Regions from separate parts of the Homo sapiens genome. Here all the other regions are linked to region 3. Evidence: fine-mapped expression QTL. A gene starts in region 3. Each other region holds a variant in brackets. All regions are shown on one strand. Distances are between the middles of the regions. Region 1 overlaps SLC44A3 (solute carrier family 44 member 3). Region 2 overlaps SLC44A3-AS1 (SLC44A3 antisense RNA 1). Region 3 holds the start of SLC44A3 (solute carrier family 44 member 3).

Region 1 (8,183 bases), 26 kb before region 3:
TTCTAACTGCAGCACAGACCTCGCGGGAAGTCCACTCCCTGCCAAAATCCAATATGGTTCTCTTCTATTGTACAGACTCTGGAGCTTCCAGACCACCTTAATGAACACTGGAGGTGACCAGGTCATCTGAGCTCTTTCCAACCTACCAGATTACCAAGGTTACCACAGTTTTCACTTTTTCCTATTGGATTTTAGTAATTACTGTCTTATTGCTGGTACCAGACAAATCCCAATGGACTACTAAATGTCATTGTTGGGTGGTGCAAGATGGGGGCTTGATATGACCTGCTGAAAAAAAATCCCCAAACAAGTCAGAATTTGTCAACTAGTCAAAAGAATGATTAACAGTCATTAGAAAAATAGCCCATCTGGGCAAAAATGATCAACCCAAGTTCACTCCTATTTTTTTTAATGCAGTAAAAAATAGTATTCATTCAACCATCTGACACAACTATTTGGGTGGCTCACGCCTATAATCCCAAAACCTTGGGAGGCCAAAGCAGGTGGATTGCTTGAGCCCAGGATTTCTAGACCAACCTGGGCAACACGGCAAAATCCTGTCTCTACAAAAAAATACAAAAATTAGCTAGGCATAGTGGCATGTGCAGCCCCAGCTACTGGGGAGGCTGAGATGGGAGGATCGCTTGAGCCCGGGAGGTTGATGCTACACTTGAGTCTGAGCAACAGATTGAGGCCCTGTCTCAAGAAAAACAAACAAACAAAAACCAACAAAAAACAAAACACAAAAACAAACAAACAACTATTTATGTACTGAGGACGCCCACACACAAAACTGGGCGCTAACTGAAGAGTGTGTCTGTCCCCGCTGAAGCTGCCTGTGGGACGTGGAATGAGACAATCGGGCACTGTGCAGCGGGCTCGCCACCCGATCACCTGGCGCCTCTTCATAAGAGGTGAAAGCGGCTCAGAGTCCCTCTCAAGTGTTAGCTGGGGCATCTTCTGAAGATCAAAAAGTGATTCAGCTGCTGATCTGCCCAGCCGCAGAGCCAGGCTCTCTGGCACTGGTGAAAAGGCCTCTGAGAACAAAGGGGACCCTGTGCACCTGGGTCGGCCACAGGCAGGTGGAAGGAGGGGACGGGTGATTTGGTTTCTATGATGCCTGACCCCAGCGGGGTGGGGAAGGGGGGTGGTGGCTCTGCGTAGCACCTTCTCTCCTGAGAAGCCTAAAATCGACCTGCTCATAGATGCCTCCCATAGGTCCGGGGCACCCAGTTTCCTTTCTGGCCCCTCTACTGTTCTCGCTGTTTGCTGCTTGCACTAACAGTGAATCGTCACACTTCACTGTGTGATCCTGAGAGGTGGCTGCAGAATGACACGCTACCTTCAGCCCTGAAGAATAACCTCCAGGTCTCTCTTGCAGTGGAGGCTACTAAGCCCTGGGCCCAACCTAGACCTAGTCAGGGGCACAGGCTGGCAGTTAAGGGGCACAGGCTGGCAGTTCATGCCCAAGTCAGCCTTGGGGCTTGCTCCTTTCTGACTTCACTGGCCTGGGCTCTTCCCTTGACCTCTGTGGCCAGGTCCTCTCCTTGTGCTGCCTTGACTTCTGCTGCATCCCCCTTTGCCTCTTTCTGTATTTTCTGACCTGGCGATTTCCAGCCTGCCCTCTAAGAAGCCCTCCCTGACTCACAGCATGGGTTACGGCCTTGTTCTGGTGTTCCCATAGCTCCCCAGATTTCTCTGATCATCACATCCATCAATCTTCACTGCGATCACACGTTTCATTGTTGGACCATCCTGCTTGACTATAAGTACTGAGGGCAGAGAGTCGACCTCAATCCTGTTCCCTACCTCTCCCTAGTGCCGTGCTCAGCGCCTCATCCCCACAGTGCCCACCAAATACTTCTGAATTAAATTAAAACCATCCCTGCTCCAAAACATCATGGGGTCTAGCCACAGACACAGTTCCCCTTATCCAGATTCACAGCCAACAAGGGGCCCCCTGGCTGGGCCAGCTGCACCTAAGGAGGTGGGAAGAGGAGGGTCCTTCACTGGTCCTGAGCCATATTTCCTAAGACCTCACTGTTTCTCTGATGATTCTCTAGAGGCTAGGGTTCAAGCCCTACAGTGCTGCTGCCCAGGGCCACTGCCACCACCTCCATCACACCTCATCCCCAGCTGGCTCTAGCTGTCAACCTCCAGCCCCAGACACATTATGGGCACAGCCCACATCCACCAGCCAACTGCTGTGGTCCCTGATACAGCTTCATTCTGAGCAAACTTGAAGAGGCCTATTTTTTTTTTTTTTTGAGACAGAGTCTCACTCTGTGGCCCATGCTGGAGTGCAGTGGTGTGGTCTCAGCTCACTGCACCCTCCGCCTCCCGGGTTCATGCTATTCTCCTGCCTCAGCCTCCCGAGTAGCTGGGACTATAGGCGCCCGCCACCACGCCCGGCTAAGTTTTCTGTATTTTTAGTAGAGACGGGGTTTCACCGTGTTAGCCAGGATGGTCTCGATCTCATGACCTCATGATCCGCCCGCCTTGGCCTCCCAAAGTGCTGGGATTACAGGCGTGAGCCACTGCACCCGGCCTAAAGAGGCCTATTTTTATTTCCTAGCTTTGGATCCCAGATGCAAGGGAGGTGTAAGGTAGTGGAAAGAGCACAGGCTCCATTCCAAAGCTCTAGAGTCACAGCACGTCATGCCTCCCAGCTGTATGACCTCCGGCACATGACTTCCTCAGAATCTCAATTTTCCTGCCTGTAACTTGAACATAACAATACCCACATCACACGGGGACTGTGATGCCTGGGGGACAGAACATAAGAAAGCATCCAGTACAGAGATTAGAATCTAGGACATTTTCAACAAAGGCTTGTTTCCCTTCATGCACCGGGGCCACTGCCCTCCCTTCTGACCAGGGCTGAGCCCACTTCAAGCTCGCTAGAGGAAGGCCATCCAATGCTGAGACTTCACCTGTCTCACGATATCTATTCTCCCCTCTTTTCTTGGTTATAGAACCTCTGATTGGTGCGTGCCTGCCCAAAATGAAACTACATTTCCTGGTGTCCCTTGCAGATAAGCACTGCTATGTAACTGGGACCTGGCTGATGAGGTGTGGGTGGAAGCGCCACCTGTGACTTCTGGGAGGGGCATGCTCGCTTTCCTCCCTGCCACCCTCCTCAAGGTCGGAATAAGACATGGCAGTGGGAGCCTGAGCAGCCTTTCACTATGAGGTGGAAGCAAGGGCAGAGGCTGCAGAAGAAGAAAGCGGGTGCCTGAGTCCTTGAGCGCTAGAGAACTAGGCTGGCATGGATCCTCTCCATGTGGACTTCATCTGTGTGACAGAGAAATTACCTTACATCCTACTTTAGCCACTGTTGTTTTGAGTTTTCTTTCACTTCCAGACAAACCTCATTCTGATGGATTATACCCTTTTGACCAATGTTCCTCCCTGGGTAATTATCAGAAGTTCACTGCAGGCCTTCAGCGAGCTTCCAGGGAGCCCCTAGTAGAAGACTGCCC[C/T]TATGCACCTCTGAAGGTGGAAACATAGGCCTCCAAGGGCCATGCCTTCCAGGCAGCCTGCTGACGATCTTGGCACTGTGGCCTCAGTTAGCTCCAGAGGAGAAGGAAGGGGACTGAGTTTACTAAGAATCTATTACATGGCAGCTGTTCTTACTTATATGACTGGAGCCAGTAAGGGACAAGATAAACTTGAGAAAACATTAAGGAACTGCATCAGCCTTGCTGATTTGACATCAGCTGTGGTCCTTATCAGTCTGGTGACAGTATCAGGAAGCCACTTACTCTTTTGTACTTGCATCCATGTGTACTGAATTTGGGCCTTAAGAAAATCAAACAGAGGAGTTAGAAAAGATCTGGACAGTGCCACTCAAAGTGTGGTCCACAGAAAAGCTGTCTAACCTCACATTGTTAGTAAGATAAAAAGCTTGTGCCAGAATGTAGATCAACTGCATCACTAAGCACATCGTTTCTCAGCTGACAGTTTCTTCCATAGCAAAACTTTCTCAATGAAGGAAGCAATGGAATGACGTCCATTCTAGCTAAGCTCCTTATCTGGCTTCAGACTGCACTCTGAATAGTGCTGCTTTAGAATATGCTTGCCCTGTTACGGAGCTTTACAAGAACATATACTAGGTCCCACCGCAAACCACGTGAATCAATCTCTGAGGCTGGCACCCAGATAACTGTATTTTAATAAAGCACCAAAGCTGATTCTGAGAAATAGCCCTGGTGAAGAACCACTGTGTGGATATGAAAAAAGGATGGAGGAGAGAATCTTGTCTTTTCAGGACCAAGGCATGTGAACTATGAGTTTGCTTTAAATGTACACTGGCTCTGCTGGGCATAACACTTTTTTTTTTTTTTTTTGAGACAGAGTCTTGCTCTGTCACCCAGGCTGGAGTGCAGTGGCGCAATCTCGGCTCACTGCAACCTCCACCTCCCAGGTTCAAGCAATTATCCTGCCTCAGCCTCCCCAGCAGCTGGGATTACAGGTGCACGCCACCACGCCCAGCTAATTTTTGTATTTTTAGTACAGACGGGGTTTCACCATGTTGGTCAGGCTGGTCTCAAACTCCTGACCTCGTGGTCTACCTGCCTTGGCCTACCAAAGTGCTGGGATTACAGGCATGAGCCATAGCACCCGGCTGCACAATATATTTTTAATAGAGTCTTTCCTGGGTTCTTCTTTGTCACCTACTGATTTGATAGGGGTTGGCAAATTACCTTGGATAAAACTCATACCTGGAGACATCTGGTAATATTCTTGCTGTTGGCCTTTGTTCATATTGTAGTTTTTCCTAGAGCTTTCAGTCCTTACTGAATTTATTCTCTCATGAAACACAAACCCAGCTTCTTTAAAACCAATATAGAAGAGGTAAAAGAACTTCCCACTTTTCCCCATGACAGAGCCCCAAGCACCAACGCTGCTGTCATCAGACACCTCTGGCTCAATGAGGGGTTAGGTGCCTACAGAAACAGGCCAGTGGTTCCAAAATGGTCTTCTGTGTATGACTCCAAGGTGATGGAACCCACACCCACTGTCCCTTACCTGCAGTTCCCAGGCTCAGCAGCACAGCCACCCAGAGGACCCAGAAGAAAATGAGGATGGCAAATGTCCACAGTGGCTGGAACAGCAGGAAGGGAGCACTGCTGATGGCTTTATTTGTGATTTGGAAAAGCTCAACTGTCAATTTTATTCTCTTTCTGAGAACAAAAATCAAGACGAGCAGCACTGCCTGGTGAGAAAGGGATTTGAGTAAATTACTTCCAAATAATGGAGAACTGGGTAGAGCTTAAAGCAAGCCCTACTATTATTATGACATCTCAGCAAACAGCTCTTTTAAGATAGTTACTCACTACTTTGTTATAATTTTACAGATGCATTCGCAAACACTAACTGAGCATCTAGTAAGTGCTGGTCCCTGGAATAGATCTTAATAGACATAATAGCGAAGAAGACACAGTCCCTCCATAAAGGGCCTTGTAGTCTGGTCAGTGAAAAAGATAAAATGAGAATAAGGTCTTCTAATGTCAAGGAACTGTCTTATATCCTCCCCTCCACATCCCACAGAACCCAAGATATTGCAAAAGTCAAGGGAATATGAGTATGAGGCAAAAAGACTCAAAGCCACCTTCTGTGCCTTCTTCTAGCTTTCCCTCCCTGCATATAAACATTTACAAATCTCATATTAATGAAACAAACCATTCTGCACCCCTCCATCCCCATCCAGCCACTGCCGTCTCTTACTGTTTTCATGGCCGAGCTTCTTGGCTTGTCTACACCCATCATCTGTATTTCCATACCCCAACTCATTCTTCAACCACCCACAAACATCCAGATCCCAACACTCTTTTGAAACAGCTCTCTCTGAAGTCACTTCATGTGACCTCCTGAATGTTAAATGCCATGGAAACATTCCAGGTCTTGCTTGACTTCAGCATAGCATTAGATCCCTTGTCCACTCCTCTTTTCTCGAAACATTTTCCTCCCTTGGCTTCCATGATCTTTCTTTTAGCTCTCCTACTTCTTTAATTGCTGCTTCTTGAGATCTTCTGGGGGTATCTCCTATTCCTCTGTGCTTTCAGCATCCTTCCTAGATGCTGACAACCTCCAAATAAAAACCTCCAGCCTCACTTTCCTCTAGGTGCTGGAAGAATAAGCACATCAGTTATTGACAAGGCCGTGGATGTCCTACAGTATGTCAGACTCAATTTATCCTGAATCAAATTCATTATCTTCATACTAGAACCTCCTCTTCCCCCTGTATTCTTTACCTCCAGTGGCCCTAATTTTTCTAGACTTTCCAAGAGTAAGTTAGGTTCCCCTCTTGTGTGCTCCCATTTTATTCCACACTTACCCTATTGTACTATTTAACATATTCTATAAATGTTTTCTCGTCTGAATTTCCCATTAGATTAGGCTCCTAGAGAGCAGGGCCATTCTTATGGTCAAGGACTGGCAAAGTGCCCAGTACAGTCTCAATCACCTCTGGTTCAGTTTCCTCAATACCGCTCATGCCTTCCTTTCCTCTCTGTTTCCACCGCTGATGCCACAGCTCAAGTCTCAGCCTCTTTCTTCTAGACCCCAATAACCTCATTAGCTTTCTGCATTTAACCTCCCTGACCACCCCCCCCACCCCGCCCCACCTCAGTCCCTCCTCCACTCCACAGCTAAGGGGACCTTTGTAAAGCGCAAACACAAAGATGGTGTTTCTCGGCTCAAAATCCATCTACGGCACCCCAGTGCCTCTGGAGAAAGATCAAACCTATCATCATTGCAGATCAGGACCTTTGTGACATGACCCTCCCTGCACCTGCATCTCAGGCTTCCATCAAGGGAACTTCCTGCAAGTCACACCCCTGCCCATGTGACCTCATGCATGCTGTGCCCTTGGCCTGAGATGCTCTTTCTCTTCCAGCTTTGCTGGAGCGTTTCTGCCGTCAACAGTCAAGTGGAGGAAAGACAGTGACAGTGGATAAACTGCAGAAGCTGCTCCAGGATCTGGGAGCACAGCCTCCTGACCATGCAGGGAGAGGTGTCAGGAGAGGCCCCGCAAGACACCCAGAGGAGACCCTTCAGTTGTAAAGGCTGAGGAGGAACTTCCATCTGGGCTTTTCTGAGGATGAGTGAACTAGCTCATCTAGCAACCGGGAATTGGTAAGAACTCACAACAAATGAACGGGAGGTGAGCTGGGACTCAATTCTGCCTTATAGAGTAGCCCCTGTGCAGAACTCATGGACCCAGGTGAAAACAGCCTCCCTGCTCACATGGCCTCCCCTCTCCCTAACCTTGCCCCGGCCCTGAAATCTGGGTGGCATAAATGGTGCAGTGTACAAACAAAAAGGGAGCCCTGTGGAGGGTAGACGGAGGAACTGGACCCTCCCCAGCCCCCAGCCCTGCTCCTCTTCCCCTATGCCCAGCCTGGGGAATGGGGAAGCCCTTTCATCTCCAGCCTCCTCTGCAGACTCTGTTGAGTGTCTGGTCTGGTCCCTGCCTGAGGCGAGAGCAACCAGGTGCTTTACTTTATTGTACCCTTACTCCCTGGCACATTTTATGTGAAGATCACAAACCCAAAACCTCACCGTGGAAAGGAGAAAATGTGAAAACTACCAAATATGAGAATAGAAGGATTTCCTATGAGAGAATTTTGTTGGTGTGAGAATCTGCATTTGCTGCAAGATTCAATGGGCTTGTGGAAACCCCTGGCTGCAGCTGCTCCACAGAACAGTCAGTAAGCAACACACCAGCAACGACGACTCTGGGGGACCTGAAGCCAGTGTGGGGTCCGCCCCAGGGCCTTGTGATTTGAGCCTTCCTAACGGCCCCTGGAGAGGGTCCTGAATGACATTTGGTTGCCAACCACCCACCACCAGTAACTAATACCTGCTCCCTCAATATTCTAAGTCAGCCTGTTTTCAGCTAGAGAGTTCACTGAGGAGGCAGCAAGTTCTCTGAACACCAAAATAACCCAGTGGCCAGCGGGTTTGGAAACAAAGGGCTCTGTGTGCTAGAGGGCAGCGGAAGCTGAGCATACACTGGCAAAGGGGAGCCGCACCTCACAAACAGGGAATGGGAACTGCCGTAAGCCTGCCTCCGCCCACCCACCATGCCCACCTTGTAGCCCCTTGGGGCTGAGAACAGTGCAACAGCAAGGATAACACAGTAGTCTCTGGGAGGTGGCAGAAATGACTTGGGAAGA
Region 2 (8,183 bases), 52 kb after region 3:
CATGTACAAAACATTGCCAATAAACTGCTGAATCTCTGCATCTCTTGGGCTTAAATGGAAAAGCGTCTTCTCCAACCTGGGGAATAAAGTATAGGCTTTGTAATTTTATGTAAGGAAAACCCAATACTAGTTACTCTTTCTGGCATGCTTACTATGTGCCACATATATGGTGCCTCTATTATGCTGTACAAATGTTAATTCATTCAATCCTTGGCCTTAAGTGGTAAAATTTATATTATTCTGAATTTTATAAAGGAAAAGAGTGAGGCTCAGTTGCTTTTCCAAAGTCGCACAGCTAGAAAGTGGCAAAGCATGGAGTCAAATTGACTATAAGCCCTGCAGACCAGAAAAGGTGACACTTTGCCTTTGAAGACACAACAAGAGGGCTTTCCTGGATGTCTGCCAGAAACTGCTGTCTTCTGGCAGGTTCTGGGCCTCTATTTTCCATGTTCAGACTCCTAAAGGGAACAGGAGAACACTTGTTTATTTCTGTCTTCTTCTGGTCCCACTTTTACATCCCATCCCCATGGGAGGGTAAAAAAAGAAGAGGAGGCCCATCCACCTCCACTTCTCCTCTTGATGTTTGCACCAGTGGCCATAGAGATGGGGACAGACCGGACTCTGGTGCCATGGACTGGCACATGGTCTCAAGTTTCTGGCCCTGGGGTTGGAATACAGTTCCACTTGCTCTGTAGGAGATCAGAGGGATGCTATTTACAAACATTGAGTTATGTGAACTCATTTCAGTGGATTTGGGAAAATTACTCTCCATGGGAATAAAAGTTATCAAGAAAGAATTTTTAAATACTCTATATATTTGCAGGTCGAATTTATTATTTCCTAATACAACTAATATAATTATCCTCTCCCATGTTCTTCAACAGATGTATTCCAGAAACATTTTGTCTGAATCTTTAAAAGACTGCTTTGCTTTTTCTGATATCAGGTCAATAGAGAAATGTGCCACCCTGCTAGTAAAAGCCAGTTTTTGAGCAATATCTGCATAACTGTTAAATGTGTTATTATTATTATTATTTTTTGTCTAACTTTCATCCTGCACTCTTCAGCAGAACTAAAGATACTCCCTGTTCCAAGGAAGCTCATAATCTAATAATGCCATTGGAAAGTCACTTGTTATTAGTGTAGGCCTTTTGCAAATACCCTCCAAAAAAAGCTTAATGTGAGTTTTAATCCAGATAAATAAACCTATTAAGAAGGAAAAGGAGAAGGAATAAGTCTCATGAAGATTTACTACTCTTGGAGTTTGTTTTCTTCGCTGTAAGGAAGAGTTGTTCCCCATTGCTTCAATCACAAAAAACCATTAAACATAGACCAAGAAGGGGGAAAAAAACCTTACAAGATCACTTTATAAGGGACAATAAGTACTTGAAAATTAGAAAACATCCCTTTAAATTTGGGAAGTCTTTAAGTGCTCTGGGTGAATACATGAGTGGTAGTAAAGAGTGAAGTGTGCAAACTCCAATCTACAGTCAATTTGGCAGCAGAATTCTCAGTGTGCTACGGAAGTAAGCAAATGTTAGAGAGGTAAACAGATTCCAGATTAACTTACCTGGAAGAGTCTCCAAGAGCAGCTGGGAAGCAGAAGAATGCAGCTCCTTTCTTGCCATCTGGTTTGACTGGAAATCCACTGGTCTGGTGGTTCCATTGGCATGGGGGCATTACCCTCCTCCCCTTCTCCCCAAACCCTTCAAAATTTCCAAGGAAGCCTGTCAAGCTCAGTTAAGACTCAATGTGTCCCCAGGGTCCTTTTTTGCCACATGGAAGAAGAGAGAATGTGTCTTATCTTGATGATTTTCTTCTAATCAATTTGAGTGTCAACAGCTAAATTTGAAAAATAGAATGCAAAGTGAAGACTAGATTTATCATTGTTAAGCTAGGAAACCAAGAGTCTGCATTTCTGTATTCTAGGGTGAAAATGGAAATTCACCTGTGGAACTCACTGGCCATTGTGGAAGAAACAGTAAGATGACCCTCCCTTCATTATGCTGGCCAATATGGTATCAGATCACTTTGTGTTTCCACTTCAGAACTTTGTGGGTGACTTTTGTTCACTGTTGTATCCCCAGCACCTAGAGCAGTGGCTCATGAAAAATAGAGTTTCAATAAGTATTTGTGGGAATGAATGAACGTTTGATCAAAAGAGGTAATTCTCTCATGCTGCCAAGATGAATGTGGGGGCTTGGAAATGTGTTCCTAGAATCCTGCATTGGAGATTGAAACTCAATTGGAGCTTTCCTATGGAAGCAATGTTACATAAAGTGATTGGGAGTTATTGAAATAGTGCTCTTGGCACCATGATAGCTGTAGGCACTTGTGGCTTGGCATGATGACTTTGTTATAGTCTATGTCACTGTTTCCATGGGAAAATACATTCTGGGTCCCAGGACTTGGCTTATAAGTGACTTTGGAAATACAAACCAGTCTTAGTTGAGACCTGCCCGAAACTTTGGTTTGACTGTGGCTGTCTTGGAATGTGTCCAAAATAAGGCATTGCTAGGAAACCTGAGTGGCCTTTCTTCTTGTGGCTGGTTCCTACCAGGAAGGGTGGTGTCATGTCAGGAATGTAGACTTGAAGTTTGTAGACCATACCATGCTAGCTATGACCCTTCCTTAAGTGGCCTAAAAAGACTAGAGGATTTTTAATGGACTGGGGAAAGGTCCTTCCAGGTATGTTAATATCCCAAACAATTTAGCTACATAGAATGTGGCCCAGAAACATCACAGTGGGTCACCAGCAACCATGACATTCAGTGAGGTTCAGAGACAATCAGGGTATTATCCTAGAAGATCATAATGTTGGGTATAATATTTGTGGCATAATTGTTGTTTAATCAGCTCTGGGATATGGCTGGGCTATCTTACAGAACAAACAGCCTCATGCACGCTGATGCACATTTGAAGGAATATCCTTCATGTAGACTCATTCAGACATCCCAACCTGCTTTTCTGCAGATTGGGGGTTGGTGTGAGGAGCCAGTAGTCTCAGACAGCACTAGTATTGAGGCCATGGATGTCCAGGGAGAAGCCTGGCACCTTATTCTTTGGCATGAAGACCGTGGGGCCTCAAGGGAAGGTGGAAAGTCTAAGGCTCTCTGGTCATAAGATAGGGTCACCTGGTGATGGAAGGGCTGCAACTGGCCCTGAGAGGGTTCCTGACTGACCACACAGATGTACTTGCTGGGACATGAAGAGATGTCTCTGCCATGAGGCTGGTGGGTCTTGGCAGGGGACAGGGGCAGAGTTGGAAACAGAAATCTAACACAAAGGTGAGAGAGTGATTTTAAGTTGTTGGAGGAGTTATGAGATTCTAGCCAGGGTGTAGGGAATGAGGTAGGGGTGAAGGACAGCACTGACCTCTTGAATAAGGGCAGTATCAGTAGATACTGTGTCACTGTGTCCCCTTCAGGGGCCCCTCTGGCAGTGAACGAGGCTAATACAGTGTGTTTCTGCTCAGGCTTGTTAATGCCTTTCATTGCTTTCTCTCTGTCCACACAGGAGGCTGCTTGTGTTAGCCTCATTTTCGGTAGACTCTACTCAACTGTGGCAATGATGGGCACCTGTAGTACCAAGCTCATATCTCACTAGATTTGCTGCAAAGAAGACCAAGCAAAGTTCCAAGGCTGATGCTTTGCAGCCCAGAATGGATCATGACTATTACCTTGATTGGCCAGGCCTAGGACGGGGGTAACCACTCTCAAGCCCTTGGACTGAGACTGGGGGAAAAGTGGTTCCCCAGGAAAAACTGAGTTCCTATTATCTAAAGAAGACATGAATATTCAGCAGAAAAACATCACATTTCCACACTTTTAAACTCTGAAATATGTGGCTAGGTATAAGTCAAAGCCAGAAATTAAATGAGGGAACAGTTCTCTGAGGCCTTCACGCAGCTGTTAATGTTCCTAGAAAGTGAAGGGGTTTTCCCTGATCTATTCTATAACGTATCTTAAGTAGAGTACTTTCAAGTTCTTGTCCTGGAAAATCACCACATGATTAACAAACCCATAGACTGGAAAATTGGGGAAGGGCAGGCAGAAGACTACAAGAGAACTCTTGTACCCTTTCAACAAATAGGCAGCATCACTTAGCACAAAGGAGGAAATGAAGCAATAATTGAAACCATGAAGTGGGTATCTTTGTATGCGTGCATGTTGTGAAAAAACGTGCATCATCCACATTAACACATAGCCAGATGAAAACCCAAGTCATCTCCTTTACTGTAATATTATTAGAAAACAGTGATACTTATTATTTCTTCATCACTTTCTAAGTTACGGGTTAATCTAATCTTGCAATGAGATTCTTCTGCATCAGGTAAAGTTACTCTTATTCTTCAATGATACCTCTTCAAAGAGTCTTTCCAGATTCATGTAGGGAGGGATCTTTTTTTCTCCTTCTTGGTAGCTGCTCACTGCTTTTTGTGCATGCCAGTATGATAGCACTTGTCGTGTGGCACTGTGATTTTTTATTTGTTCAAAAGGCTCTATCAGGCAAGAGCTATGGGCTTTGAGGTGCATCACTTGACTTCCCTGAAACACAAACTGGTAGAATAACAGTTCATCCCTCTTAGGGGTATTGCAAGAATTAAATTAAATGAGCTGTTGCATGAAAAGCACTTAGCATAATACCTGGCTTATAGTGGGAGCCCAGTAAATATTGGCAGTTAGCATTTTAGTGTTTATTCTCATTAAAATAATAATGATTATAATAATTATCATTGCTATGTCCTCTACTAGGTGGAGAA[G/C]TGCTTGAGGGCAGGGACTGTTCTGAGATCATAGTAGGTACTCTGTGGAAAAAAAGGAGGGAGGAGGGAAATAAAAAATGGAAACAACAAAGAGGGCAGCAATACCAGGTTTGCCCAGAAGTGACAACTCTAGGTAGCCAGAAATAGCCTCTCCAGCTAGAAGGGATCTCATGACCTTTTGTTTTATAGAAAAGGAAATGTAGGGGCCAAGAAAGGTTAAGGAGCATGTTTAGGATCACAGTGTTGGCAGCAGTGGCCTGGAATCCAGGCTCTCTCCTGGGGTTAACCTTCATAGCCCCTGCTTTATTGGCATCTCCACCTTCCTTAGTAAATGCCCATGTATCCATATGGCTTGATAAACCTTGGCTGATGTCTGCCACTGAGAGAATAGGGCATTTCCTATCTATCCCCAGATGGAGACTGAGGAGAACATGGATATTTGATGGGAATGTAATGTATTCGTTATCTTTTCAGTGTCTTTCTTGTAAAACCCAAAAGGCAGCCATTAAAAAATAATATGATCCTGGTCTTAATCCAGCAGGCTCCAAGCAGCCTCAGCCATTATGAGAGTTACTGACTCTAATTGCAAATTATGAGGCAGTTAAAGAAATATAGCATATGTCCTTCTTTAATATAGGTTTGAACCTTCTTTAATATAGGATTGAACTGAACTGTCTACAAGGATTACTGTCTTCCTTGGGAAATAGGCAAGCACTGAGCTGACACAGGAGCCAAAACAAGGTCTCTGGAACGTATACTGGCAGGAATATCAGAAAGGAAACCCATTCCTGTGTTTGAGTGGATGGGACTCCTCAGAAGTGAGAGAAAATTAATACTGAGATTGACAGAGTGCTTGAAAGGGGAGGTGAGAATGAACTAAATGTAAGAAAGCCAGGTTGGGTATAAAACTGTCTGTAACTGAATATACTTCATCACAAGCATCATGATCTCATGTGTGTATTATGGGTTACATTATACCTTAGGTACAGTCATTTGCCCAAATTGGGAATTTGCACCCTAGGGTGGAGAGCCAGCATTCGAATTAGGAAAACTGTACTCCAGAAGCAGCTACTACAAGAGCTCCCATGACCTTTATCTATGATCAATGGTAGAGGCTCTGCTAACTGGCATACTTAATGTTAGAAATAGGTTTCCGTTGATGAAATCCGTGGCTTCTTAGCATAGTGGATGCTCCAAACAGAAATTCATTCGTGAACTTACTAGTGGTAAAGATAAGTGAATTGTCTCAAGTATTTTAGAGTAGCTTCCTGCTTTTGATTAAAAAGAGTATAAACATCTAGCCAGTCCTGTAGCTCTTAGTGATGCAATCCTGGATCAAGATTTGGATTCAGAAGTTACTAGTTTCTTGATGTCAACTATGCAGATTAATTGAATTCTGTATCCAAAATATTGTTGTATTTACCTGAAAAGATGATGTGCTATCAGGAGCTAAAGAAGCCATGCTTTAACTATGAAGGGATAAACCCAAGGACAATATGCAAAGTATGTTATTTATCCAATGCTCTCTGACAAATTACTCCAAAATGTAGTGGCTTAAAACAACAATAATAATAATCTCCCATGATTTCTGTGAGTCAGGAATTTGAGAGCAGTTCTGGCTTGGAGATTTCTCATGAAGTTACAATCACATGTTGGCTGGAGCTGTAACTATCTGAAGGCTTGACTGGGGCTGAAGGACTCACTTCCAAGATAGCTAACTCCATGGCAGACAAGCTGATGCTCCCCGTTGGAGGGAGGCCTTAGCTTTTCTCTATGTTGGCTTCTCCATGTGTCCTGGATTTCCTCACAACATGGTGGTTGAGTTCCAGAGGCAAGCATCTGAAAACAGAGAGCCAGGTGGAAGCTGTATCCTTTCTGTGATCTACCCTCAAGAGTCACATAGCATCACTTCTGCCCCACTCCATTGACTGGGACAGTCACAATCCCCTGCCTAGATTTGAGAAGAGAGAACACAGACCCTTCCCTTAATGGGAGGAGTGTCAGTTGCCAGTCACATTGTGTGAAAATTATGTGCGATGAGATAAATATGTAGGTGTGGCATTTTTTGAGAAATACAACATGCTACAATAAGTAAGGATGGCAATGAGAAAAGGTAAGAAAACAAAAACAAAAAACCCACCTAGGGCCTTGATACCATCACTGGGCTACTGAAGTAATCAACCATGAAAACACCTACCTCAGAATATCTTGTTTTGTAAGATAGTACTTTATCTTCATTATTTTATTTGGGTATTCTATTATTATAGCTGAAAATATTTTAATGGATATTACTTGGTAGAAAAGCTAGAGCAAAAGACCTGGATTCAAATTCTCCCATGGCTCCCTAGATGATATTACTTCAACTAAAGTATTTATTCCCATTCATGTATTCAACAAATGTTTATAAATGAACTTCAATGTGCCAACAAGGTACTGTTTAAGACAGTAAGAATGCAACAGTGAGTAAAACCGGCAGAGATCCCTGTCCTCATGTAGCTAACAATTGACTATGTGTTCTGTGGGACTGTCTGTGTGTGAGGGAGGTGGTGGTATGGAGTGGCAAGAAATAAACCAGGTAAATAATTAAGATGATGTTGAGTGGTGAGGAGTGCTATGGAGGAAGATAAAGCAGGACAGGGTGACAGTGTGACTAGGGAGGTCCTCATGCACAAGGTGACATTTGAGTAAGGACTTGAAGGAGACCCAGTGTGTATTAGGAACACTTCTAGTGGGACCTAAGGGAGTCAGTGAGGGGAAGGATAGTAGGAAGTGAGGACAGACGTTTTAGGAGATGGGAGCAAATTGTATAGTGAAATGGGAAGCTGTTGAGCTTTTGATTAGAGGGTTATGTAATCTGACTTACTTTTTTTTCTTTTTTTAAATTATACTTTAAGTTCTAGGGTACATGTACACAATGCGCAGGCTTGTTACATAGGTATACATGTGCCATGTTGGTTTGCTGCACCCATTAACTCGTCATTTACATTAGGTATTTCTCCTAATGCTATCCCTCCCCCTACTCCCCACCCCATGACAGGCCCCTGTGTGTGATGTTCCCCACCCTGTGTCCAAGTGTTCTCATTGTTCAATTCCCACCTATGAGTGAGAACACACGGTGTTTGGTTTTCTGTCCTTGTGATAGTTTGCTCAGAATGATGGTTTCCACCTTCATCCATGTCCCTGCAAAGGACATGAACTCATCCTTTTTTATGGCTGCATAGTATTCCATGGTGTATATATGCCACATTTTCTTAACCCAGTCCATCATTGATGGACATTTGGGTTGGTTCCAAAGTTTTTGCTATTGTGAATACTGCCACAATAAACATACGTGTGCATGTGTCTTTAGAGTAGCATGATTTATAATCCTTTGGGTATATACCCAGTAATGAGATCGCTGTGTCAAATGGTATTTCTAGTT
Region 3 (8,183 bases):
GTTTCCAGGCTCCAAATGATGAATTTATACAAAGTTTTGAGGTACAGTTCCTTACAGACTGGGGACTTATTTAGATACTTACTTTTTTAGGGTCATGTCCTGCCCTGAAAGAGGGGCCCCTTCCACGGGGGAGTTCTTCTTGCCACACATGTTGCCAAAGCTGTCATAGCCAAAGAGGAGTCTTCCCGCGGCTCCAGCCACCACCGAGTAGCCCATGATAAACACCTGGCAAAAACGGGGGCATATGAGAGCCTGGCCAAAGGGCTGAGCGCACAGTGCCCCACACCCCTGCAGATGCTGATATAAAACGGAGCCTGGTGGAACGTGAAGCTCTCCAGCATCATAGCGCTTTGCTCCGTCAGTAACAGTGTCAGCAACTCCCATCTATCAGCATCCTGCTCCTCTGCTACTTATACATTTAGGTAGAGAGAGAATCTAATCCACTGAAACAGATTTCTCTCCATTTTCTTACCTCTGTGCTTTTTAACCTTTTCCTTAAGAGTCTATCATTTTTCTTTTTGGTCTAACTTTACTGGGACAATTCAATTTTTCTTCCCTTGATGTTCTTGCTTAATTTAACTGCTTCAGGGCTATGCTAATTCTTTCCCCAAGGTTTTTTTTTTTTCTACTACTTTTTTTGTTTTTCTTTTCTTACTTTTAAGGGATTCTGCAGAAGCAACACAGTTGATATGTACTGAAACACTGTTCACCAATCTGCAAATAGTGTTTTGGAGTAACTGCTTAAGACATACAAAATAAAGGACCACAGGAATTCTGTTGGACAAGAACATCTTGCAATCTATCATCATTTTTATCCACTCTCATAGTGAATGTGGAATATTTGAAATTTCAGTTCAAACAACTGTGCCATTAATACATACTGACAGGCTCTCTGCCAAGATTGAATATGTATCTTCCCATAATGCAAACTTAGTAAGTTTCCCAGTACTGTATGCAATATATAGGATACCATTTAATACTCTATATTGACAAGTTCATTCCAGGAGAACAGATATAATACACTATTCATTAATATATAGTATTGATACCTTATGCTGCAAAGGTACATTGTCCTAAATTCAAATACCTTCTAGACATTCTGCATTTATTACTAATTTAGAAATCAAAATAACAAACATTCTTCAAGTGCCCAGTGTGTTCTTGAGACTTTCTTACTGGGAGACACAGGAATGACCAGAACCTACTCCTTGCCTCCAGGAACCCAGCCTAGAAGGCAAGCAGGACTTACGGGCTGCAGACCTCCTGGGGAAGGAGGCTCCCTGTCCTTTCCCACTCTCCAAGATCCTCCTAAGTCTAACTGGTCAGATTCTAGAATGAATGGGTCACCTTTGCTAGTAGTGTGTGTCACTCACCCTTTACCTAAAGGCTGTGGAGTAGGTGTGACTCTGTTTGCCAATGTGGCTGGCATGGCAAGCTGACTGTGCCTTGACATGCTTGTCTCGTCCTTTCGAGTTGGAGTGTAGTAAGGTCTGGACTGTGTTTGGATTTAGAGGGAGGAAAGGGGTCATGTGCTTCTGCCCAGCTCACCAGTAATCTAATAACAAAGTGATGTTTTCCATTTACCATCATTCTTTCCTTTGGAAAGCCTGTGGTGAAGAATGGAAAGTTTTTCTGGGTGGGAGAGGTGGGAGTGGTTTCTGAGGATTCCTGAGTCCCTCCTAATAAAACTATGACTTTATGATTATTATTTTTTATGTTTTGTAGACACAGGGTCTTGCTTTATTGCCCAGGCTGGTCTTGAACTCCTGGCTTCAAGGGATCTTCCTGCCTCGGCCTTCCAAGAAACTACTACTATAAACCTTCATTGTCCTAATTTCAAACATGCAATTGCGATTCTATATGACAGGTGATATAGGAGGTGTGTACATTGGTCTAGTACATTGGCCACCAAGGTAGTCACTGTCAACCGTGCCTGCAAAATCAGGAAAATGGAATCTTGAGGGATGATAGGAAAAGGCAGGGCAGGAGAGGATACTGGAGGGGTAAGTAGAGGCAGAGATAGTCCAGACTTTGAGACTTTGTTCCTTATGTTTAATGCAAATATAAACACAGGCTGGTGCTGCATTTGCAAGAACCATCTCTGCTTATAATTTCAGCTCCTTCCCCCAAGCCTTTGTCCAGCCCTAACTCAGGGCACACCATCACCAGTCAGGACATCTGTCACAAGACCTGAAAGCTGAACAACAGAGGCAGAAAAAAAAGTCCAAAAACAAAACACTCCTTGCTCTGTTTTAAATACCTGCAAATAAAAAATGTTGCAAAAGACACTAAAAGCCAGTGAGCTAAGAAAGGACTCTGACTCTTAAAACAGAATGCCATAGTGAGAACTTGGATATATTAAAACTTCAGACTTATTTTGCAAATGAAATGTAATTTTAAAGCAGTTTCCAGCTCCGTGCCACCTCTCAGCTGGTTCACAATTCTTCAGGCTGTGATAGGTCATCTACAAAGATTTTCCCCAGGATTCTCAGCTGTTGGGCTGAGAGTTTGGTAGTGAGGTCCTAGGTTGAAGCTGTGGAGGGGCTACGGCAGATCATTAAATCACAATAACAGCTTGAGGTCAAAGCTGCCAGGCACAAGGCAGGCCAGCTGCTCCCTGCATTTATACAACAGCAGTCTCAGATAAAAACACCAACCATCTGCGAAGTTAAGCAGAAGGTATTGTAGGTGCACTGTCTCTCCCAGCTCCTAGGGGAGAGTTCCAACGTAAGCAACAAAAAACATCTGATTATGTGTTTCAGACCTAACCTTCCACTGTGCCTGTAACCAAGCCTGTCTATGTGAAACGGGTCATAAGTGAACAAATGCCTTTCTTACTTGGAAAGAACAAACATGATATTTTAGGGCCTATTCAGATGGAATTCTTTTCAACAAAGGTAATTACTATCTGGTAGTTATTACCCTGCTCTATAAATTAATCATTTACCATGCAGCAAATAGCATGCCTTATCCTGGCATGGATGATTTCGTGAAAGTGGCCTTTGAAAATGTCGGGTGAGACGTTTTCTGCTGTTACCTACAATTCTAAAATAAGTATAAAAGCAGCAAGATTCGGCTTCCAACAGACTCTCTCAGGATTATAACCGCATAGCCTGATGGAGTTTACCAGCAATCATACATACCTCGAAATTAGAGTGGGAAAAATCATTCCTTGTTAGCTATGGTTAACAGTGTTGGCTGCTAAACACAACATATCTCTCGCGCGCGTGTGTGTGTGATGTTCAGCTAAAGGAAATGCAGTTTATTTCTAGGCTTACCCTGGCTTTTCCTTTGTTAAAGGTGCACCAAAAGCTTGAGGAATATTTGATTTGGGGGTGTGGCAGGTGCTAAAAGAACTTCTGTTCAGTAAGTTCGGAGAGTAAAAGGAGACACATTGGCCTTACTAAATAGCAATCACATTGCAAACTGTTAATTCCCATTTCCTAATGGAGTCACCCCTTAGAACATGGCCTGTAGCAAAAAGACAGCCTTTCTAGCGAGTCTAGGACAAGAATTCTCCCGAGTACAAACTGATGTTTATTGTGGGTTAACGGCAGAAGTCTCTCACTGCAGCACCAACTACGATTTACATTTGGGACAGAGTTATTTCCAGACGTGCACACACACTCTGGCCTCTTTCCTACCAAGCACCCACACTTACCAAACCAGTCCAAAAGAGAAAGAACAGGAATAACCATGCCGTATCTGTGCATTTCCTATAAATCTGGGGTCGCCACTCCCTTTGCCTAGGGGCTCCTTCTGCAGAAACCTTCCAGAAAAAGGGAGAGTTGAGAAAAAGAAGATAAACAGGTGGACTCAACCTGGAAACCGAACCCAAATCTACTCGAAGAGGGGCCAAAGTAACCAATCTTTTTCTAAATTTTTAAAATTAATATTATTTTTTTACGTGGCCACCTGAAGCTCTTTCACACAGCCTTTGAAACACCTGCTCTGCGCGGAGCGGATGTTAAGCCCCCTGCCGCCAAGTGCTTACCTGGAGGTGCACCTGAGGACGACCCCAAGTTTGCGCCCCGCGGCCCGCGTCTCCCCCGCCTCCGCCCCAGCACTGGAGCAGGGTCCAGGTTCCTCCCCGCCAGGTGGCCCCAAGGTACTAAGCGGGGGCGGGATCCCCGAGGCGCGGGAAAGGCGGAAGCGTCCGGCAGGGAAGGTGCGTGAAGGCGGGGGACTCGACCCTTCCCCGGGGCTCCTCCCCCGAGGGCCGAGGCTGCGAGCGCTTACCAGGTACTCGGCGCCCAGGCAGTGCATCGTGCGCTCGCCGGCGGGGGCCGGTGACTGGGAGCCGCCGCCGCCTCCTGTACGCGGAGACGCAGCGCCCGCGAGCCGGGGCCGGGGCCGGGGCTGGGGCTGGGGCTGGGGCTGGAGCCGGGGCCGGGCCGGGGAGGGGCGGGCACGGTGCAGCGCCGCCTCCCGTTCGCCTCTGCGCCTGGCCCGGCGACTGCGGGCGCTGCGGTCCACTGGGTCCGCCTCTTCCCGGCATGGGTTTCTGCCCAGCTCACCCGCTGTCAGCTGGGGTCCTGCTCTGGTGGGAGGAAGAGGCTCAGACGCTTCCCTGCCCTCTCGCCTCAACCACCTCGAGGCAGCGGCTCCCAGGATGTGCACTTTGACGACTAAAGCTGAGCCGGCGCCGCCACGACCTTGGGCGGGTGGTCGGCCTCTGCCCTGAGCAGGAAGTAGAAAGTCTCAGCAGACCCTTCCTGAGGGCCGAGCAACAGTGTAGTGGCGTATTCCACATAGCAAACAGGTAAGCAGCATTTACTGTGTGCTGGATTCTGTTCTCACTGCTATTGTTATTCCTAATCTACGGAGGAGGGAAACTGAGGCACGGCCATTGGTGATGCAACTTGTTCGAGGAGACCCAGTAAGTTGTGGAGGCAGGAGTCGAACCCAGACACTCCGGGAGACCGGCGCTCTCGAGGTGGTTTACTCTGACTTCTCTCCCACCTTGCCTTAGGACAATCATTGCCTGACTTCGCAATTGAAATGGTAGTGTCCACTGAAGCGACTGGTGGCATAGTTTTCCAGGTAGTGTCAGACCAGCGCAAAAGCACTGTTGGGGTGAGGAATTTAAAAAACGAAAAACAAAAAAAACTGCAGGCCGACCTCCCCCCACCTCCTCTCAATCAAGCCTCTACCCTTCCCCCTGCCACCCTTAGGGTTGCTAGGTTAATTGCTTCCTTTAGGTGCTGCTTCTCCCTAAGGGTAGAAACCTGACTGGAGGAAAGATCTGGGTAAGTGGGAGAAACTGGGAATGATAGACAGTGGTTCTCTGGTGCCAGCGATTTCCTTCTGGGCTCACACCACCCTCCCACTGCAAACTCACTGGGCCTTCCTGGATGCATGTTTATCAGACAGAGTAGGTGAAACCCCAGGGGAACATGAATTCATAGGACAAAGAATTAGACACTGGAGGAGTGCAACTACTGTTAAAAGACCACAACTGAATAACATATGCCATCTGAAACTGATCAGTAGAGCAGATGGACCAAGATTTTTAAATAAGCATGATAAATTTATTTAAAATGAGTTATGATATTAGCAATATGAATCAGGAAAAAATATGAAACTAAAACATATTAAGCATAAAAATAATAATTAGAATGAATATTGATGCTACGTATTAGTAATGTGCAATAGTCTAAAAGATGCAGCTGACGATGAATTAGTAATTGGAAGAGCACTTTCAGCAAACCTCCAGAGGCAGTAGAAAATGTTTTAAAAAACAAGTTAGCTTATTTGTAAATTTTCTAGCTTATATCTAGGGTAAAACTAGAACAGAAAGGAAGAAATATAAAAACAGAGAAGGGGAAATATTTGAAGATATAATGGAGATAAATTTCAAGGTAGAAAAAAACCTTCAGATTGAAAAGGTTTATCTCAAGCAAAATGTTTCTATATGTAAGTATTTAAAAGCATAACTTTGAACTTATTTTCTATTAAGCCATATTGTCATTAGAATGTGAGAATGTATTAATAATAAAAATATTCTTATGAAAGATTCATTTGAATGACATTCTTGGAGGACATAATCAAGCAAGAAGAGAAACAAATTCAGGAGATGATACAATAGATATAGCATGAGAGTGGCCAAATATTTAGGCTGAATTTATTGTTGTGTTAGAAAAAAGACCAGGAACCACCCAAGTGTCCAGGAACTGGTGGGTGGCTATACATAACTGTGATGCATCTATACGATGAAATACAACTAAGCATTAAGAAGGAACAGACTTCTTACATATGCAAAAACATGGATGATCTCAAATGCATGTTAAGTGAAAAAAAGTCAGATATAATAAGCTACTCTATGATTCCATTTATGTGACATTCTGGAAAAGGCAGAAAATAGATCAATGGTTGTCAGGTGCTGGGGGTGAAGGGAATCTGGAGAAACTTTCTGAAGTGATGGAAATATTCCATTATCTTGAGAATGGTACTGATGACCCAGTGGTATCTGTTTGTCAAAATTTGTAGAACTGTACACTAGAAAAGGTGAATTTTATTGTATGTAAACTGTATTTCATTAAACCTGACTTACAAAAACTCTTTTCAAAAGTCTAAAAACAAAGAACAGTGTATTTATAATGATTCAGACCTAAAATTATAGACAATATCAATATTGTGAGGGGTGTGGGACTCAGGAATGAGAGGCCAAAATGATAGGACAGTGATCTAAAATAGTGCCATTCAAAGGGTGGTTCACAAAACTTAATTGTTCTCTAAGAGATAAGGAGCTTGTACCAGAATGCATATCAGCTATGTCATAAGCAAACTCTTTGATTCAGCTGACACTTTCGTAGCAAGACTTTCTCAATGAAGGAAGCTGTGTGTTGATTTACATGTGGGCTCAAATCTCATTCTGGAATGGATGAGATAAGTAACCCAGTACTACTTAGAGTACTTAGAGTAGTACTGGGTTAAATTACTATCATATGGGAGGAAGACGAAAAAAATTGTTAACTTTAATAAATCAATAGGGATAAATATTTGTGAATGTAGGTCTTAAGGGTAACTACCGTTAAAAAAGAATAAAACATGTAACTTTTAAAGCAGTGGAAGAAAATTTTATCAAATGAAAGGCAAGAGAGCAGAGGAAAAAGGAATAAAAAGAAAGTGCAATAATTAGAATATATGAAATTTGATAGCAGAAATAAAATTACTAATAATAATTTTTACTTTCAGTGTACCTAATATGTTCCAGATACTTTTCTGGGTGTTTCTTATTTGATCCTCATAATAACCTTATGAGGAAGGTACTATTACTTTCATCATCCTCATTTTATAGATGATGAAACTGAGATTAACTAACTTGCTAGAAAGTGGCAGAACCAAGGCCTGAACCCAGGTGGTCTGGATCTAGAACCCATACTTAGAACCATACTTAGAGCTATTCTATGCTGCCTCCTAAATAGAGCAGCAATTACAATAAATGTAAGTGGCTTAAACTAACCAATTAAGAAAAACAGTCTTTCAAATTGAATGAAAGCAAGGGATTCAGCAATATGTTTTCTACAAGAAACTTGTGTAAAACAGACACTAAAAGGTTAAAAGGCTTGAAAAGGATATAGTGCAAATGTGAACCAAAGAAAGCTCATGTAGTAATTTTAAAACCTGACAAAATAAAACTTAAGATAGAAAGTTCATAAGGGAGGTCATAAATGTGCCCAACAATACAGCTTTAATATTTATTAAGCAGCAGCTAACAGAAATTTAGGCAGAAACAGATAAATCAGAATTATAGTTGGAGATTTTTAACTGGCTCCTCTCAGTATCCAATAGATCAAGTAGACAGTAGATACTTCCTCTCCTCTCCCAACACACATACACACAGAAAGCAAATATACAAGGTCTGTACAATTTAATTAATAAACTTGAGCCATTAGATATTTATAACTCATATACGTTTCCATCAAACAGTGAATACATGTCCTTTCTCTTTTCAGGTACATGTGAAACATTAAAGTAAAAACATAAACTGTGTATTAGATCTTAAAGGGAGGCTCAATAAATTTCACAGTGCAATAAAATTAGAAGTAATGAATAACAGTATGTGTGGTGGACAGATTTTAAGGCCCCTATGATTTCCACCTCCTGGTGTTTACACCCTTATGTAGTTCCCTTCTTCAGATATGGGTGGGACCTGTACCTTTCAACCAATTATGATGGTT

The links. PIP is the estimated chance that this variant, and not a neighbour inherited with it, causes the effect.
Region 1: its variant is fine-mapped to the expression of SLC44A3 in whole blood (TOPMed, PIP above 0.99).
Region 2: its variant is fine-mapped to the expression of SLC44A3 in tibial nerve (GTEx, PIP 0.97).

Annotation. Positions count from the first base shown.
Region 1 is chr1:94,842,313-94,850,495 of GRCh38, reverse strand. It overlaps SLC44A3 (solute carrier family 44 member 3), which reads right to left. Exons shown (of 15, transcript NM_001114106.3): 9 at 5,032-5,218. Among named protein-coding and RNA genes, the nearest start is that of SLC44A3, 26 kb to the right of the region's middle. The variant C/T (reference allele first, on the strand shown) is at 3,483.
Region 2 is chr1:94,764,060-94,772,242 of GRCh38, reverse strand. The region is part of intron 1 of SLC44A3-AS1 (SLC44A3 antisense RNA 1); the gene reads left to right. Among named protein-coding and RNA genes, the nearest start is that of MIR378G, 22 kb to the right of the region's middle. The variant G/C (reference allele first, on the strand shown) is at 4,763.
Region 3 is chr1:94,816,535-94,824,717 of GRCh38, reverse strand. It overlaps SLC44A3 (solute carrier family 44 member 3), which reads right to left and starts at 4,361. Exons shown (of 15, transcript NM_001114106.3): 1 at 4,240-4,361; 2 at 3,662-3,769; 3 at 83-225. The coding sequence starts at 4,266. It overlaps SLC44A3-AS1 (SLC44A3 antisense RNA 1), which reads left to right and starts at 4,486. Exons shown (of 6, transcript NR_160780.1): 1 at 4,486-4,762. RefSeq lists a silencer at 4,168-4,357.